Homo sapiens: one gene and its partners. The protein of the gene in region 4 purifies or fractionates together with the protein of the main gene of each other region. This does not show direct contact. Each region holds a gene or a part of one and is shown on either strand. Other genes may lie near its edges. The genes, in order: TFCP2, CHM, RAP1GDS1 and RAB20.

Region 1 (4,570 bases), on a different chromosome or scaffold from region 4:
CTGTTTCAACTGTGCTGTGAATTATCAAAATCCTAACTGTTAATCTAGACTAAGAGAACTGCTCTTCATCAAAGTAGCTTCTGTTTTCCTTGCTATAAGACTAAGTATCAAAAAAGACACTGAGGCTTCTCTAAAGATCTCAAGGAGGTTACTTTACTCCACCCAAAAGAACTTCACTGAGCCAGGGGTGATTACCCTGGACAGGGAGTGGTAAGCGTTCTATTTCTGCAGCTCTGAAAAATTCATGTGAATACTGGGGCTTACTCTGACCCCAAAGAAATAACACATCAGCTTACTACTCTGCCAACAAATTACTGCAGGCAAGAGATACCATTAAGCCATTGGAAGCAAAAGAACATTAACAACAACAACAAAATTTAAAATCCCAAAAGGATTAGTAAAAAATATTGTACAGAAGAATGATTTATTCGTTTTACCTTCACCAATTTGCCATTAATTTCTGGAAGTTCTCCAAGTTTCCTATTGTCTAGCATTCGAATTTCATAAGACTGTCCTAGAAGAAAAAGTAATTACATATTATATTCACCACAAATTAACTTTGCTAGATTCGGAAAGAATAAAATTCAGTTGGTTGAATATACAACAGTATAATAATATTATTAGTATTAGTAACAACAATCAGAAGCCTTTACAAGATGCTCAGCACTGTGCTAAGTATTGTCACATTATCTCATTTAACTGATATACTTTTCTAAGGTATTATCAATCCCATTTTACAGACAAAGAAATTGAAACTTAAAAGAGTTTTAGCAACTTGTCCAAGGCCACACAATTGGTAAATAATAGAGCCAGGTAGAGTAATACTTCTCAGACAGTAACCAATGGGAGTGTCTAGGGAATATGATTAGGAAGAGGAAGCTGGACACTAAAAATGGACAGCTAAGCAAAAGAAGCTAGTAATAGATATCAAGTATGACATTAGAACTCAAATCTCTGAAGTAGGACTTCTAGTTTGATAGGCCACACTAGAAAGATCTAAGTTTTTACATATAAGTGTACCTAATAAAACATCATAAATGGCCGGGCACGGTGGCTCACGCCTGTAATCCCAGCACTTTGGGAGGCCAAGGCAGGCGGATCATGAGGTCAGGAGATCGAGACCATCCTGGCTAACACGATGAAACCCTATCTCTACTAAAAATACAAAAAAATTAGCCGGGTGTGGTGGCGGGTGCCTGTGGTCCCAGCTACTCAGGAGGCTGAGGCAGGAGAATGGTGTGAACCCGGGAGGCAGAGCTTGCAGTGAGCCAAGATGGCGCCACTACACTCCAGCCTGGGTGACGCCGTCTCAAAACAAACAAACAAACAAAAAAATCATAAATACAGTAGGTCTGCAATAGTACTAATGAATGAGGAAGCATCTAACCTTGATTGAGATACGTTAGGGTTTCATCATGGAGTTTCACTGCTGGAGAGGTAGCAGCACAAAGCACATATTGAAAAGGCAGGATTTTATTCTCATTATCAGGAGGCAAACTCGACTCTTCTTGCTTAAAAATGGGCAATGCAAGGACATCACTAAAATAAAACAAATGACTCACATTAATACCTGGCAATGGTGCAAACGCAGGTTTATTGCTGAATGATTTAACTGCAATGCTTTGGAAAGCCATAAACATTACTCACCTTGGTGGAGTTTCATCCCAAGAATTCCATTTAGATTACCTGCTGTGATATCCCCCTGACCACAACAGTGTGGGTGATGACAGATATTCACTGCTAAAACCACTAAGTGTTAAAGAGAATGTTTCTAGGAATCATAGACAGGGGTTCCTAAAAGGACTGTGGAAATTATAAACAGAGTTCTAAAATGTATAAATCTAGGACATTCAGTAACGTCTTCATTCTCAGAAAGGCAACAACTATACTATCTATATAACCATATCAGCTGATTTACTATAAGGACTAAAATAACTTCTACAATTCCTTAGAAGCCACGTGAAAAGGACAAATCAATAACGAGTATATATTTCAAGGTCATCTTACATTCTGTGGAATAACAACTAATATTGAGATGTTCCTACAAGCCATTTCCTCTAAGAAAAAGCTTTTTGTATCTATCAGTTTATCTAAACTTGCAAACCAAAGACACATACCCATCCTTTGTCAGTGGGAATGTAAAACCACACTCTCATCCTTTTGTCAGTAGCAATGTACAATGACATAAAACAGTTTAGGAAAAGGTTTGGCAGTTTTTTATAAAATTAAACATGCAGTCAGGCACAGTGGCTCATGCCTGTAATCCCAGCAATTTGGGAGGCCGAGGTGGGCGGATCACCTGAGGTCCGGAGGTGGAAACCCGCCTGACCAACATGGCGAAACCCTGTCTCTACTAAAAATACAAACCTAGCTGGGAGTGGTGGCGCATGCCTGTAATCCCAGCTACTCAAGAGGCTGAGGCAGGAGAACTGCTTGAACCCGGGAGGTGGAGGTTGTAGTGAGCCGAGATGGTGCCACTGCACTCCAGCCTGGGCAACAAAGGCGAAACTCCATCTCAAAAAAAAAAAATTAATTAAAAAAATTAAATTAAATTAACCATGCATCTATTGACCCAGCAATTCCACCCATTGGTACTTATCCAAGAAAAATGAAAATGTAAGTCCACCCAAGACTTGTTATAAATGTTCACAGCATAAAAGCAAAAACTAGGCCAGGTGCTCACGCCTGTAATCCCAGCACTTCGGGAGGCCGAGGCGGGTGGATCACCTGAGGTCAGGAGTTTGAGACCAGCCTGGCCAACATGGTGAAACCCTGTCTCTACCAAAATTACAAAAATTAGCTGGGTGTGGTGGCGCATGCCTGTGGTCCCAGATACTTGGGAGGCTGAGGCAGGAGAATCACTTGACCTCAGGAGGCAGAGGTGCAGTGAGCCGAGATCGTGGCACTGCACTCCAGCCTGGGCAACAAAGCAAGACTCTGTCTCAAAAAAAAAAAAAAAAAAAAAAAAGAACAACAACAACAACAAAAAAATAAAAACTGGAAAGAACCTAAATGTTCATGAGTAAGAGAACGGATGTACAAACCATGGTATATCCATACAATGGACTACTCAGTGAAACAAAGGAATGCAACACGGATGAATCTCACAGATATAATGCTCGACAAAAAAAGCCGGACACAAAGAATGTGTAATGCATGGTTCTGTTTATATGACAGTCTAAAACAGGCAGAGCCAAAGAGAACAATGGTTTCCTGGTGGGGCAGGGGATGACTTGGAAGGTATATAAGGGAACTTTGTAGGGAGATAAAAATGTATTATACTATGATAGGTCTGCTACGTGGTTGTAACTGTAACAGCTTATTTTTGCATCTCATTGTATATGAATTTTACCTAAAAAAAAAATTATTGATTAGAGGATGGGGAATAGGTAGAAGTAAAAATAATAAAAGAGGGCTAGGTGTGGTGGCTCACGGCTGTAATTCCAGCACTTTGGGAGGCCAAGGCAGGCAGATCACTTGAGGCCAGGAGTTCAAGACCAGCTTGGCCAACATGGTGAAACCCCATCTCTACTATTAATAAAAATACAAAAATTAGATGGGTGTGGAGACACACATCTGTAATCCCAGCTATGTCAGAGGCTGAGGCACGAGAATCACTTGAGCCGAGATTGTGCCACTGCACTCCAGCCTGGGCGACATAGCGAGACTGTGTCTCAAAAAAAAAAAAAAAAAAAAGGTAAAAAGAGTAGTAACATGTTAAAGCAAGGTGATGAGTACAAGAGGGTTCATCATATTATTCTGTTTACTTTGTATATGTTTGAAATTTTCCACAGTAAAGTTTTTTTTAAAAAAGAAAAAATATATATAGGCCACAGAGTACTTCTGGGTACAAAAGAAAAGGAACAGGGTACATGAAATAAAAGAAACAATTAAGATTCCCTTGGCTAGGCACGGTATGGCTCATGCCTGTAATCCCAGCACTTTGGGAGGCCAAGGGGGGCAGATCACTTGAGGTCAGGAGTTTGAGACCAGCCTGGCTAGCATGGTAAAACCCCGTCTCCACTAAAAGTACAAAAATTAGCCGGGCGCGTTGGCGCGCGCCTAGTCCCAGCTACTTGGGAGGCTGAGGCAGGAGAATTGCTTGAACCTGGGAGGTGGAGGTTGCAGTGAGCCAAGATCGTACCACTGCACTGAAGCCCGGGAGACAGAGCGAGACTCCATCTCAAAAGAAAAAAAAATATTCCCCCAAAAGATCAGAAGTCAGGAATCCAGTGATTTTTTTTTTTTTTTTAAGACAGTCTCACTCTGTCTCCCAGGCTTGAGTGCAGTGGCACGATCTCGGCTCACTGCAACCTCCACCTCCCGGGTTCAAGTGACTCTCCTGCCTCAGACTCCCAAGTAGCTGGGACTACATGCACACGCCACCACACCCGACTAACTTTTGTATTTTTAGTAGAGACGAGGTCTCACCATGTTGGCCAGGCTGGTCTCAAACTCCTGACCTCAAGTGATCTGCCCACCTCAGCCTCCCAAAGTACTATGATTATAGGCATGAGCCACCACACCCAGCCCAATGATTCTTGTTAACATTCCCCATGTTCAAAATGAA
Region 2 (4,570 bases), on a different chromosome or scaffold from region 4:
CTAGACCCCTTAGGTAGGAATTTGGGCAAGATAAAAAATCAGAGCTTAGTCCTCATTACAGAGAAAACAAGACTGGCCATGAGTTGATAACTGTTGAAACTGGGAGTCTGGTATGTGGAGGGTTACTTTATTCTACTTTTTTATGTTTGAAATTTTCCATTGTAAAAAGCTTAAAAATGGACGTAGCATCCTGTTTTTTATCTAAATGGAGAAAACTACATCAACTCAAAATCTCTTGAAGTTTTGTTAAATAAATATAAATGTTTGCTGAAGACCTTATCCTTGCCAGGAAATAATCTCCACTACAACTAATTTTTCCTTTTTTTTTTTTTTTTTTTTTTTGAGACAGAGTTTCACTCTTGTCACCCAGGCTGGGGTACAGTGGCACAGTCTCGGCTCACTGCAACCTCCGCCTCCCGGGTTCAAGCGATTCTCCTGCCTCAGCTTCCCAAGGAGCTGGGATTACAGGCTCCTGCCACTACGCCTGGATAATTTTTGTATTTTTAGTACAGACAGGGTTTCACTGTGTTGGTTGGGCTGGTCTTGAACTCCTGACCTCAGGTGATCCACTTGCCTAGGCCTCCCAAAGTCCTGGAATTACAGGTGTGAGCCACTGTGCCCAGCCTAATTTTTACTTAATTTTCTTAACACAAATATTTCTATTGTAATTTAAGTGACCAAAATGATCTTTTCACAGCAAAGTATACCCCAGGCCAGTGCTCTTCAAACTTAACATAAAATTTAATTTGTGATAAGGAGAATAGTTTCTGTGTTCAGAACATATTTTACTAATGTGCCACATGACCTTTACTGCATTACTCATAAAACTGTGAGTCTAAAATAGATGATGAAAGAGAATAAGTATTCATTTCAAAAATGTTATAAAAATGATACAAAAAACCCTTCCCCTTTATATAAAATCCTATCATGAAAATCATTTTACAAAAAATAGAAATAAAAACTTTTCAGCTTTATAAACTATTTTTTTTAATGAGCGGGACCTTGGACCAAAAAAGGTATTATCATATCCATCCTATCAATTAAGATGCATGATGTATCCATTGTAAGCACTAACAGTTGTTGAAGACTGTAGGAAACAAAAGAATAGTCAACCAAAAGAAAAAAAGCTCCATAAACAGGACAATGAGTCCCATATTTGATCTTGAAAATTTAATTTGGAAGAACACTAAAAAAGACACAAAATGGCAAACCCCAGCACATGCACAAGTATTTCAGTGGGAAATTATGTACCTTGGGATTGTGAAAGGAAAACAAATCTCCCCAAAATCACTAAACCAAAAGGAAAAGTCAAGTTGGGAATTGTGTTGGGCAAACCTCTCTCCCTTTCTATTCCTAAATAAGATCACTACAAAGATTTTTAAAAAGCTACATACCTCCCTCACAATTTGCCCATAAGGAAATTCCTTGTGGACAACCAAAGGACAGGCAGAACTCAAAGTCATTCCTCTGTTCCCATGAGACAAATGCGTATCTGATGGCTTCCTCCGCCCTACTGTTTCACTACAGACTAAGGCATAAGTGACTATTCCTCATTTGTCTCTTAACTAACTATGACCCAGAAGCCTCCTCCCCACTTCGAGTTGTCTGGCCTTTCCTGATGGAACCAATGAATTATACATCTTACAAACGTTGATTAATGTTTCATGTCTCCCTAAAACATGTAAAATCAAGCTGTGCCCCTACCGCCTGGGGCACGTCATCAGGACCTGAGGCTGTGCCACAGGTGCATCCTTAACCTTGGTAAAATAAACTTTCTAAATTAATTTGGTAATCTAAATTATTTTGGTTTACAGGATCAATGAAGAATTCCTACTGAAGCAAATCATTTCTTAAAATGTAACTGTAATCTCTGATCCCATTTCTGGCCATTGCTTTAGTGGTTGATTCTCTCTTCAGTTTTAAGGGATAAACACAACCAGGTCATTCCGTTCACCTTCATCAAAAGAAGGTTTGCAAGCTGACACAGATGTCATGATGCTGTCAATAATAAGAAGCTGACATCATGAGGTTACTGCTGGAATCAGGATTTTAATGTCAACAATGATAACTCTCCAAAATAAAACAACTGCCAACCACAAACCCAGGTTAAAATAATCTCATCTTGATACTATGAGCTATTTTTTCAATTGAAAGATTCTAGCAAACTTAATCTAATACCTCAACCTTAGTCAGAAAAACTTTCGTCTTAACTGTTTCACCTACATCAAACTTAGCTGAGCCTCAGGCTTCACATTTGAAAAATGGAGATGATATAGTATCTACTGCAGGGTTACTGTGAAAATGAGACAATGCATTGTAGGGGCTTATCACCGTGCTTGGCATATAACAAATGTTAGACAATATTTTTCATGTGTTTGACAGTGTGTTGTAGGTACTAAAAACAATTTTCTAATTATCATTGATTTTGCTTACATAGCTTAAACCAAAGTAACACAGGTGTAGAAAATAAGGATTTGAACTCACAGCTCAGCATCTTCTTAATATGCCTCATATCCATGTGTAAAACTTTTTCTCTATACTTTAGCTTGTGTAAATTTTCTCATGATGATTTTAAATCCACATAAATAAGACTAGTTTAACAAATGTGCAAAGTCAGATCACAGAAACATGATTCAAAACATTTCAAAGCAATATAAAATGATTAAAACCACCATTAACTAGTAGCCATAATAACTCAATGAGAACACTGGCCTAGACCAAAAAAAAAAAAAAAAAAAAGACAGGTGAGAATACTCAAAAGAAAGAGTAGAAGTTAGTGAGTGACAGGGACAGGAGGCAGGGAAATTCTAGGCAGAAAAGGGCAGGTCCCTGAGAAAACCCCACCCTCAAGCCTGAAACCATGACGCAAAGTGAGAACTTATATCCCCATTTTCCCGTGCGAATGTTGCCTTTTCCGAAACCACTTACGGCCCACCCCACACCCCATCCTGTGTACATAAAAACCCCAGGCTCAGCCAGCAGAGAGAAGAGAAGCAGTTGGACATTAGAGACTACAGCTGGACATCAGAGAGAAGTGGCTCGACTTCAGAGGGACACCTTGACAGCGTAACTTCGAAGAAGAATCTGGCCAGAGACAGCTGGCATTCAGGGGAAGACTACCTTCCTGCCCTTTGCAGCTCCCCTTCCCACTAAGAGCCATCTCCATCAGCAATAAGATCCCCTACATTTACCATCCTTCAATTCATTCATGTGACCTCATTTCTCCTGGATGCCGGACAAGAGCTCGGGAACGATGAGTGTGGACACAAAAAGGCTGTCACACTTGCCCTTTGCCCTCACTGGTAGAAGGCAGCCGATTAACACAAAAAGGCAGAGGGCCCACTGAGCTGTTAACCCTTAAGCCGTCTGCGGACAGCAGAGCTAAAAGAGCACTGTAACATTCCCTCTGGAGCTTCAGGGGTTGCAGGCACCACCCCCGGAGATGCTACCACAGGGCCAGCACAGAGTTGACTCCTGCCAGTGCCCAAAAGCACTCGCCCCGGCTCCTGCACCCACTCAACTGCACATCCCCTCTTGTGAGGGGTGAAACACAGCAGGTCCGAGTGAGTGGAGTTCATTCCTCCTGGCACAAGAGCGGCAGGCTGACTCCAGCACTCATGTATTCCAGTTCCTGCCTTGTTCACTCACGTGCTCCCTCCTATGAGGAGTTGAAAGCGGTGGGCTGAGTAAACAGGGTGCTCCCTTCACAAGTCCCATGAAGGGGTCAGGAAAATATCCTGCTTCACCAGTACTTTTTAAAATGTGATAAAAACCAAATCAGTCAAGGAATACATTACCAACTTCAGCTCCTGATAAAATCCAGTATGAGATGAAACACTTATTTAAGCACCATACTGGCCAAGCTGCCTCTGGTCTCTTCTCCTGTCTGTTTGCAAACTGTTCTTTTCAAAAACACCCTCAATATGATAACATGCTAGCTCTCATAATCATGCTCTAAAAAAGCAGTATCTGTGATAAATTATCAACTCTTTTTACACCAAACCTTAAATGAAATTATTAGAAAAGCAAAAACAAAACATCAACCTTTCAATGTATCCCTATTTTGCTGGCCACAACTAAACGCCCCCAAAATGTTTCCAATGAGCACCAACAGTGATTTTTAGCCTATTTTACTTTTAAATATATTTATATACAGAACAGGCACAGACTAACTTTTTAGTTAAAGAATGCACTGAGACTGAATAGCAGATGATTTAGCATGAGTTAACAGGTCAATTATATGGAATTATAATTGTTTCTGTGCATTGGGATTTTATGTTAAACATGAGAATGTAATGGTGGGCTGCCATATTTGAATTTAATTACTGTAGCCTGTTATCCAAAACATCATGAAAACACTGGAGAAAATGAGAAAAATGACATGAGGCATGGGAGATGAAAATGATGCTGCAGAGGAAATTATGGCAACAGATGTGGCTCTCTCTGAGGTATTGGCTCAAATTCATGATTTACAGAGAAGGGTAAGCATCTCCCAGAGAGTCTTCTCCAGAGTTAGATAACTCTTTACTTTTCTAGGTATTGGAAGCAAACAAAAACATACTTTTCCATC
Region 3 (4,570 bases), on a different chromosome or scaffold from region 4:
TTTTTCTCAATCTGAGATAAACTTTTCAGATTTTCACCATTAAGTATGATGTTAGCTATGGGCTTGTCATATAGGACCTTTACTATGTTTAGGCATATTCATTCTACACCAAATTTGTTGAGAGTTTTAAAAATGAAAGTATGTTGAATTTTGTCAAATGCTTTTTCTGCATCAACTGAGATGATCGTATGATTTTTGTTCTTCATTCTGTTAACGTGGTGTATCACATTTATTGATTTGTGTATGTTCAACCATTCTTGCATCCCAGGGATAAATCCCACTTGATCATGACGTATGATCCTCTTAATGTGATGAGACTGCAAATCAAACCACAATGAGACACCATTTCACACCAGTCAGAATGGCTATTATTAAAAAGTAAAAACAAACAAACAAAAAACAGATGCTGTAAGGCTGTGGAGAAAAGAGAATGTTTTTACACTGTTAGTGGAAATATAAATTAGTTCAGACACTGTGGAACGCAATTTGGAGACTTCTCGACGAACTTAAAACAGAACTACCATTTGACCCAGCCATCCCATTACTGGGTATATTTCCAGAGAAAAATAAATCATGCTACCAAAAAGGCACATGCTCTTGGATCTTCATCGCAGCACTATTCACAATAACAAAGACATGAAAACAACCCAGGTGCCTATCAATAGTGGATTGGATAAAGAAAATGTGACACATATATACCATGGAATACTATGCACCCACAAAAAAGAATGAAATCATGTCCTTTGCAGCAACATGGATGGAGCTGGAGGCCACTATCCTAAGCAAATTAACATAGAAACAAGAAATCCAAATACCACATGTTCTCATTTATAAGCGGAAGCTAAGCACTGGGTGTACATATGGACATAAAGATGGGAACAACAGATACTGGGGACTACTAGAGGGGGACAAATGGAGGGAGGCAAGGGCTGAAAAACTACCCACTGGGTACCATGCACACTACCTGGGTGATGGGATTATTCATACTCCAAACCCCTGGGTGATGGGATTATTCATACTCCAAAGTGTCACATAACATGCCCATGTAAAAAACATGCACATGTACCCTCTGAACCTAAACTAAAAGTTGAAATTATTTTAAAAAAGGAACTAATACCAATCCTCCTCAAACTCTTTCCAAACAATGAAGGGAAATACTTCCAAACTCATTTAATGAGGCCAGCATTACCCTGATACCAAAGCCAGACAATGATACTACAAGAAAAGAAACTACAAGCTAATATCCTTAATAAACATAAATAGAAAAATCCTCAACAAAATACTGGCAAACTGAACTCAACATCAACATGTATTTTAAATTAAACTTTTTCCTTATCAGTTATCCAAACATTTGGCTATCTAAAATTACATCAGGTTCCCAAAGGACTGAATCTTCCTCCTTCATTCCTCCTGATGTTCATGACTGGATATTAAAATTTAGGTAATTCTGATGGCTGTTGTTAGTGCCACCAATAACTCCAGAATTGCTATGTTCAATCTCAGGTTCAATCAGGAATTTCTGGAGAGCATCCACACTATTTCCCCAAAGTCACCTAGAAATTCCAAGATTCCACTATGAAAGCAAAATCATTTTGGTTCTTAAAAAGAGTTAAGGCTATTATAATTTTTCAAATAGTAGTAGTACAGACTTCAGAATATGACTACCAAGGATAGTGAATTCAACCTTTCTCCCATATGAAAAAAGACATATACAAAACAGATATAATGCCAACATAAGAAAAATTTTTAAATTTACCAAGCTAGCATCTATGCTTTTTTGAAATCATAAATTTTAGTAATTACCAGCTTTCAAAAATATTTTATCACCCTGCCTAGACTTGCAAAGATCAGGCAAAATTAGTATTTATTATTTAGCTATGAAAACCATTCCTGGACTTGGAAATACAGGCAAAATAAAATGACTATAAGTTTGATACCTATCTACAGAGAAAACTACAACTCCAGGAATTAAAAATATAATTAGAAGCATACCTATAATCTAAAGAAGTCTCAAATTCACAAAGTCTAAGAGTAAAAGTGATAAAACCATTCATCAGTAAAGAGTATTGTTTAGGCAAAATGCCATGCAAAATTATAAAATCATTCTAGACTCACTCTGCATGACAGACATTATAAAAATAAAAATTGTACTATACTAAGTCACAAAGACATTAAAAATGAAATGTCAGAGAAATGTGAGGCACTATGGTGAAATTAAAAATTATCCTTAGACATGAAAACAGCACATGTCCTTCCATGTAAAATGTAACATTAAAATAATTTTTTTAATTTGTAAATTAAAATACATTTAAAATTTTAAAATATTTTCTAAAATGTAATATCTGTCATGCAGAGTGAGTTAAAAATATTTTTAAAAATCTATGTTTTCTCACAGATCTTTAAACAAGGTGAGAAATACAGCATGACTATACCTAGTGAACTGTTTCCACTTATTATTCACTTAGCCTTTACAACTGACCTCCATATCTACTAAACCTCTTAAAGTGGCTTTTTAGAAAAATATACTGGGTAATATCCTAACCAAAGCACTTAGAGCCTGTTCTCAGTCCCTATCACCCTCCTGACTGTTCTGAAAAAACAGACCTTATTAACTATTCACTCTTTCTTAAAACCAACCATATACCAATTCTAGTCTTTCACTCTGACTTCTGTGTTTTTCAGTGTGAAATCATACCATTCCTTTTTCCCTAACTACGGAAAACTTAAGGAACCCCATTCCTCAAGATTCTTACCATGAACAATTTTCCTCTTTTTCTTTGTTGACTCTTGTCCTCTGATCTAACTTCAAATATCACCTCAGGATATTTGTGGATAACTTCCAGATCTCTAATTCAAATTGTACTCTCGAAAGTTAAAATAAATGTTTGTCAACTATTTTTTATCTAGTTTCAGTCAGTCAACACAATTTTTCTATGTAGCTACTATGTGCCAGACACTAGTGTTAGAAATGTATTCAAATCCTAATATGACAACGTCCTTGTTATCAAGGAGCAGAGACTAAAGGACAGACCAAAAAGTCTAATGCAATAGGTCCAAAATTGAGTATCTAAGTTTCCTCTTCCTGTTAACTGAATATGTATCAGGAGATTCTCGTATCCTCATTATCACCCAGGCTAAAACCTGTGACTCTCAATTCCATACTCAATGGGTTGCCAAGTAAATCCTATTCTTTATTTGCAATATTCTATTCCCGTTGCCATAACCTGGTTCAAGCCATTAAACATTTTCGTCCAAACTCCAACAACAATCTTCTGAAGTGTTCTGTAGTTTCTCATCTAATCGATCCTGCACTCAACTGACAAATTTTCCTATACCACAGATGTGATCCATCACTTAACTACATAAAAATGTTTAGTGGTCTCTCAATAGGTAAGTCAGATTAAAATTCTTCAGCTTGGCATTTTAGATCCTACATTATCTGGTCATTAGCTATTACTGTACTACTTTTTCATGTCTGTTACCCACTATTTCCTTACCTTTTGCTCTAGCCAAACAATGCTGTTTAATCATATCCTGGAAATTCATAAAATGTTTCCTATCTATCTTCATTTATGTCATTTCTCTTCCAACCCCAGACCAACTCCATTCTGATTAACAGTCTCATTTCTACCTTTAAGAAGTTTAACCCACCTTTGGTTCAAATAACACCATTTCTCTAAAACGTTCTCTCCATTCTCTGAATCTATAATATATGTAAAGGTCTTTTATATAACTTATACTTTTACTTCTATTATAATTTGTGTATGTGTCATATTGTTCCTGCTAAGATTATAAATGTGAAACATGAATATCTTTTTATCTTTGTCCTCCCAGTACACTGTAGTACAGTACACTGCACAGTTGATATCCAACAAACACTAAATGTATGTTGAATCTGAAATATGACATATACATAAAATAGTAGCTATGGCCATAAAGTTATATAGGACTTTTCTTTCACTCTCTTGTGTAGGAAATTATTGCCATGAGAATATATATATATATTTTTTTTGAGACAGAGTTTCCCTCTTGTTGCCCAGGCTGGAGTGCAATGGCATGATCTCGGCTCACTGCAAACTCCGCCTCCCGGGTTCAAGTGATTCTCCTGCCTCAGCCTCCCAAACAGCTGGGATTACAGGCGCCCGCCACCACACCCGGCTAATTGTTTTTTTGTATTTTTAGTAGAGACAGGGTTTTACCATGTTAGTCAGGCTGGTCTCCAACTCCTGACCTCAGGTGATCCGCCCGCCTCGGCCTCCCAAAGTGCGCGCCCGGCTGAGACTATCTTTAAAAATCAACCTTATTTATTTCTTGAGACAAATTAAAAAGCACTTCTCCCTCCCCTCATCATTAACCAGTATACCTTCTACCTTCTTATGTGTACATGAATTGTTATACTAACTTCCTTGGCCCAGATATAAAACTGTTCCCCAAGGTTTCAATTTTAAATTATCATATGTACCTACTGATCATACATGAAACTGCCTTACCATTGAAGAGAGTTTAGAAGGAAACAGATTGCCTGAGGTTGACTCAAAACCAACCTACAGTGTACTGGGAGGCATGGTAC
Region 4 (4,570 bases):
CTGCAAATCGTACATCAGGGCTCAAGTGCCAGCAGGCAGATAAGAGGAGTGATAAGCTGGGGAGTGCTGGAGGGGCTCTGAGCAGGGAAGGTGACCAGATCCAGGAGGCCTGGCAGAAAGACCCCTCAGTGAGGTGCAGAAGAGACAGCACCAGGGAAGCCAGGGTTGAAACGAAGCTGGAACCTGCCTGGGCCAGCGTTCGCGGCCAGCTGGACCATGGAACTCTGTCGTCGCAGTGATGAATCCATTATCCTAAGAATCAACAGCTGTTTAGGCGTGTGTGTTTGTACGTGTGTGTATGTTTGTACAAAATTTATTTTTCTTGGAGAGGGATGTTATATGAAGTCTCAATACAGAAAGAAGGGCAATTTGATCTGGCATCATAAATTTTCAGCCAGGCATGGTAGCTCATGCCTGTAATCTCGGCACTTGAAGAGAACAAGCAGGGACGATATCTTGAGCCCAGGAGTTCAAGACCAGCCTGGGCAACATACTGAGACCCCTGTCTCTACAAAAAAAAAAAAAAAATACAAAAATTAGCTGGGTGTGGTGGTGCTGTAGTCCCAGCTGAGAGGTGGGAGGACTGCTTGAGCCCACGAGGTCAAAGCTGCAGTGAGCCAAGATCACAGCATTGCATTCTAGTCTGGGTGACAGAAGACGACCCTGTCTCAAAAAATAAATAAATAAATAAGACGGGCGCGGTAGCTCACGCCTGTAATCCCAACACTTTGGGAGGCCACGGTGGGTGGATTGCTTGAGGTCAGGAGTTCAAGACTCGCCTGACCAACATGGTGAAACCCTGTCTCTACTAAAAATACAAAAATTAGCCGGGCATGGTGGTGGGCACCCATAATCCCAGCTACTCGGGAAGCTGAGGCAGGAGAATCACTTGAACCCAGGAGGCAGAGGTTGCAGTGAGCCGAGATCGTGCCAGTGCACTCCAGCCTGGGCAACAGAGTGAGACTCTGTCTCAAAAAAAAAAAAAAATTAAAAATAAATAAATAGGGCCAGGCGCAGTGGCTCACGCCTGTAATCCCAGCACTTTGGGAGGCTGAGGCGGGTGGATCACAAGGTCAGGAGATCGAGACCATCCTGGCTAATATAGTGAAACCCCGTCTCTACTAAAAATACAAAAAATTAGCTGGGCGCGGTGGCGGGCGCCTGTAGTCCCAGCTACTCAGGAGGCTGAGGCAGGAGAATGGCGTGAACCCAGGAGGCGGAGCTTGCAGTGAGCCAAGACCATGCCACTGCACTCCAGCCTGGGGGACAGAGTGAGACTCCATCTCAAATAAATAAATAAATAAATAAATAAATAAATAAATAAATAAAAATTTCTATTTCTCCAGAGAGCTTAAAGATAACAAAGCATGAAATTGTCTCCCAAAGGCATTCAGTGTGACTCAGGTGCTCGTTAACAAACACAGTTGACCTTAATTAAGTTTCTCCTGAACCACAGTGCACTAAAGAGCCTGCAAGGTCCCCTGGCACCCCAGGATTCCCAGGCGCCACTCCAGGAGGCTGTGGGCCGAGCCTCCCAGCGCACACTGCTCGCAAGCGGCCACTGTGCTCTGCAATCTCCGAGTATAATGTCGCTTTGTCCACTCCTGCTGAGGCCAGGACAACCAATTAATTCTCTTTCCCCCATCTTAATACCCACATTCATATTCAGGCCACTGTTGCTGGTCAATAAAGCAGAGGGACTCTACAAATGAGGCCTTGCACCCAGAAGGCACCTGTTCGAAGTCCTCAGTAGAGGTGACCATGTGGACCCACATGTGCCTGGGGTTTTGCAGGTTGACCTTCCAGATACAAACCTTAACTGGCATTTCTTCCAAGATCTTTTGTTCAGTAGGAGCTGGTGTTCATCTTAAATCCACCCTCACTCCACTCTAGCTCAGTACACACACACAGTAGAAACTTGAGAGCTGCTTGTTGAGTTGAACTGAATCTTGGTGTCCTACAACTGCTGAATATTAAACCTTTTTAGAAGCGTCTATACCTATGGGAACAGACTTTTAGAGAAGCATTGTCTCCTTTACACAACCCAACCAGGGATCAGCAAATGTTTTCCGCAAAGGGCCAGATAGTAAATATGTTTGGCTTTCGGTGCTGTCTGGTCTCTGTTGCAATGACTCAACTCTGCCATTACAAGGTGAAAGCAGCCATAGACAATGCATTTAAGTGCATGCATGTGCATGTGGCTGTGCCAATAAAACTTTATTTACAACAACCAGCAGCAGGCCTGCGTCAGGCCCCAGATCTGTAGAAAGACCATGTGATTGACCAAATGGTCTCCAGTCACACAAACACTAATTGTCAGGCTGAGGGTCACCATATTAAGGCCTCAAAAACCACTCAGAAGCCTCTCCCGACTGAGGCTAAAATAGAAACTAATGTAATAGGAAAGCCAGCTAAAATCTGACTCCTGGCTGGGCGCAGTGGCTCATGCCTGTAATGCCAGCACTTTGGGAGGCCAAGGTAGGAAGATCACTTTAGCCCAGGAGTTCAAGGCCAGCTTGGGCAATGTAGCAAGACCCCGTCTCTACAAAAACAAAAATTGTTTTTTTAAATAAGGGTGCACACCTGTGGTCCCAGCTACTCAGGAGGCTGAGGTGGGAGGATTGCTTGAGCCTGGGAGTTTGAAGTTACAGTGAGCTGTGGTTACCCCACTGCACTCCAGCCTGGACAACAGACCAAGACCTTGTCTCAAAAAAATTAAATAATTATATAAATAAATAAAATCCCCCTGGCTCCACGTGTTTTGCAGGCTGTGCATTCACTTTTGCACCAATCTCTCAAGGCTTTTAAAAAATGTGCAGTCCTCACACAAGTCAAAAGTGCCGAATGTCAGCCAGCCATGGGGTCCCTGCCAAAGAGAGCTGCTCTCCAGGCCCACCCACAGCATCATCACAATTCCAACCTGAAGCAGCAACACATATGACACAGCCTCCACCCCATTCCGTTAGGAGCAGCTGTCATGTGGCTGGGGGCTGAGGTTTGTGTGTGGACTGGAAGGAGAGAGGTGGGGGCTCGCGGTCCTCTGAGCTGAACTCTCCCTCTCATTCGGCACCTTCACCCACAAGCCACCTTTGTCCTTCACAAAAGCCACCTGGGCTCTGCCTCAGACAGACAGCAGTTCACAGCATGCAGGCCAATCTCTTAGCTAACTTCACGGGAACGAGCACTTACATTCTCCCTCCTCCAGGCCCAAGATTTCATAACCAGAAACTCCAGCATCCTCTCCTGGGCTGCACTGCAGTTGTTCAGGTAAAGAGAAAGCTCTTAAACCAATTGCTCAGAATCTTGCCTGGGGCTTAGGAAAGAGCCTGCATGAGCGAAGCAGCATCTTCATTTGCTGCAGAGCCCAGCCTGGGTTCACAGCACCTCTGAGGCCAGAGAGGGCCTGGAGAACCTGAGATCCTAAACCCATCACGAGCCTTTCCTTGAAAAATCCTTGCATTTCGGCTTGGGAGGGAGGGACCTGATCCACTGAGAAACCCGTACTCTAGGTCCTGAGCCAAGCAGCATCCAGACCTTGGGTTCCCAAGGGCAGGAAGACCAAGCTGTGAAGCTGAGCGGCCCTGGCACCGTGTCAGGGAGCGACTGTGGGAGCCGCCTCCCCTCTGTAAGATGCTGCTTCCCAGTCTGTAGGACGGCAACGTTGACGCCTCCCAGGAGGAGCCTTGTGAAAAGGATGTAGCCCGGGAGTATGGAGCCTGCACAGAGCCTGGCACGTGGCAGGGACCCACATACAGTGGCAATTACTGTAAGTGTTGGAAGCACGAGTTTCGGAGGCAGCCCGTCCTGTTACACACAGGCCACACCTGCTCTCCCACCACAAACCTCCAACTACTCTAACGCGCCGGAATAGAACTCAAATGAGGCTTGAATTCCTCTTCCACGTGACAACCTTCCAACACTCAAAAACTTCCTGGGACTGGGGCTCCAGTCCTCTCCATTCCACACCACAGAGTCCCCCATTTTCTCAGTCCTGCCTTTTGTCACACAGATTCCAGGGCCATTGCACCCTGATCCCTTCTCAGGTGGCTCAGCCATCAGCATCCTCTAAAGAGGCCAGAGGCTGGGCCCATCTCTCTTCCACATCTTTGCCGTCCACCCGTCCTTGGGTTCTGGCACCAAGAACATTGGGGTCTGCAAGGCTCATGCCAAAGCTCAGACTTCTAGTTGAGACAGACAGAGGAACTGTTTCCTCGCAGCTTGGGCAGAGGACGCCACGGAAGCGCAAACGTGAATCAGCCTGTGCCTTCTGCGGGTGAAACCAGTCATCAGCCGGCCCCCTGCTCGACTCCAAACAGCAAAGGAAGAAATTCAATATGGCCAGGTCTCCCAGGTTGCTGAGCCCTTGGGTGGCAGATGGCGACTTTTATTCTCACTCTTTACCACGGCCACCGCGAGTGCCCCCAGCCTTCCCTCCTCTCGCCGTGGCCTCCCCATTTATTAGAGACTTGTTTGCTAGGGGCCCAGCTGAGCCTCCCTCCTCCCTTTGTAACATGCCTGCTGGTGTAACCTCAGTGACAGGCACCCAAGGCCAGGAGACAATGTTTGTTTA

Evidence for each region.
Region 1: the proteins of RAB20 (region 4) and TFCP2 purify together in Homo sapiens (affinity purification with mass spectrometry; one large-scale study listed by BioGRID and IntAct). This does not show direct contact.
Region 2: the proteins of RAB20 (region 4) and CHM purify together in Homo sapiens (co-immunoprecipitation; 2 studies listed by BioGRID and IntAct, with this or other methods). This does not show direct contact.
Region 3: the proteins of RAB20 (region 4) and RAP1GDS1 purify together in Homo sapiens (co-immunoprecipitation; 2 studies listed by BioGRID and IntAct, with this or other methods). This does not show direct contact.

What each region holds. Positions count from the first base shown.
Region 1 is NC_000012.12:51,117,234-51,121,803, forward strand, and holds part of TFCP2 (alpha-globin transcription factor CP2), read right to left. Parts: intron 1,540-4,570; coding exon 1,388-1,539; intron 515-1,387; coding exon 438-514; intron 1-437.
Region 2 is NC_000023.11:86,036,792-86,041,361, forward strand, and holds part of CHM (rab proteins geranylgeranyltransferase component A 1), read right to left. Parts: intron 1-4,570. UniProt on the Homo sapiens protein: Substrate-binding subunit of the Rab geranylgeranyltransferase (GGTase) complex.
Region 3 is NC_000004.12:98,263,839-98,268,408, reverse strand, and holds part of RAP1GDS1 (rap1 GTPase-GDP dissociation stimulator 1), read right to left. Parts: intron 1-4,570. UniProt on the Homo sapiens protein: Acts as a GEF (guanine nucleotide exchange factor) for the Rho family of small GTP-binding proteins (G proteins) that stimulates the dissociation of GDP to enable subsequent binding of GTP.
Region 4 is NC_000013.11:110,551,407-110,555,976, forward strand, and holds part of RAB20 (ras-related protein Rab-20), read right to left. Parts: intron 1-4,570. UniProt on the Homo sapiens protein: The small GTPases Rab are key regulators of intracellular membrane trafficking, from the formation of transport vesicles to their fusion with membranes.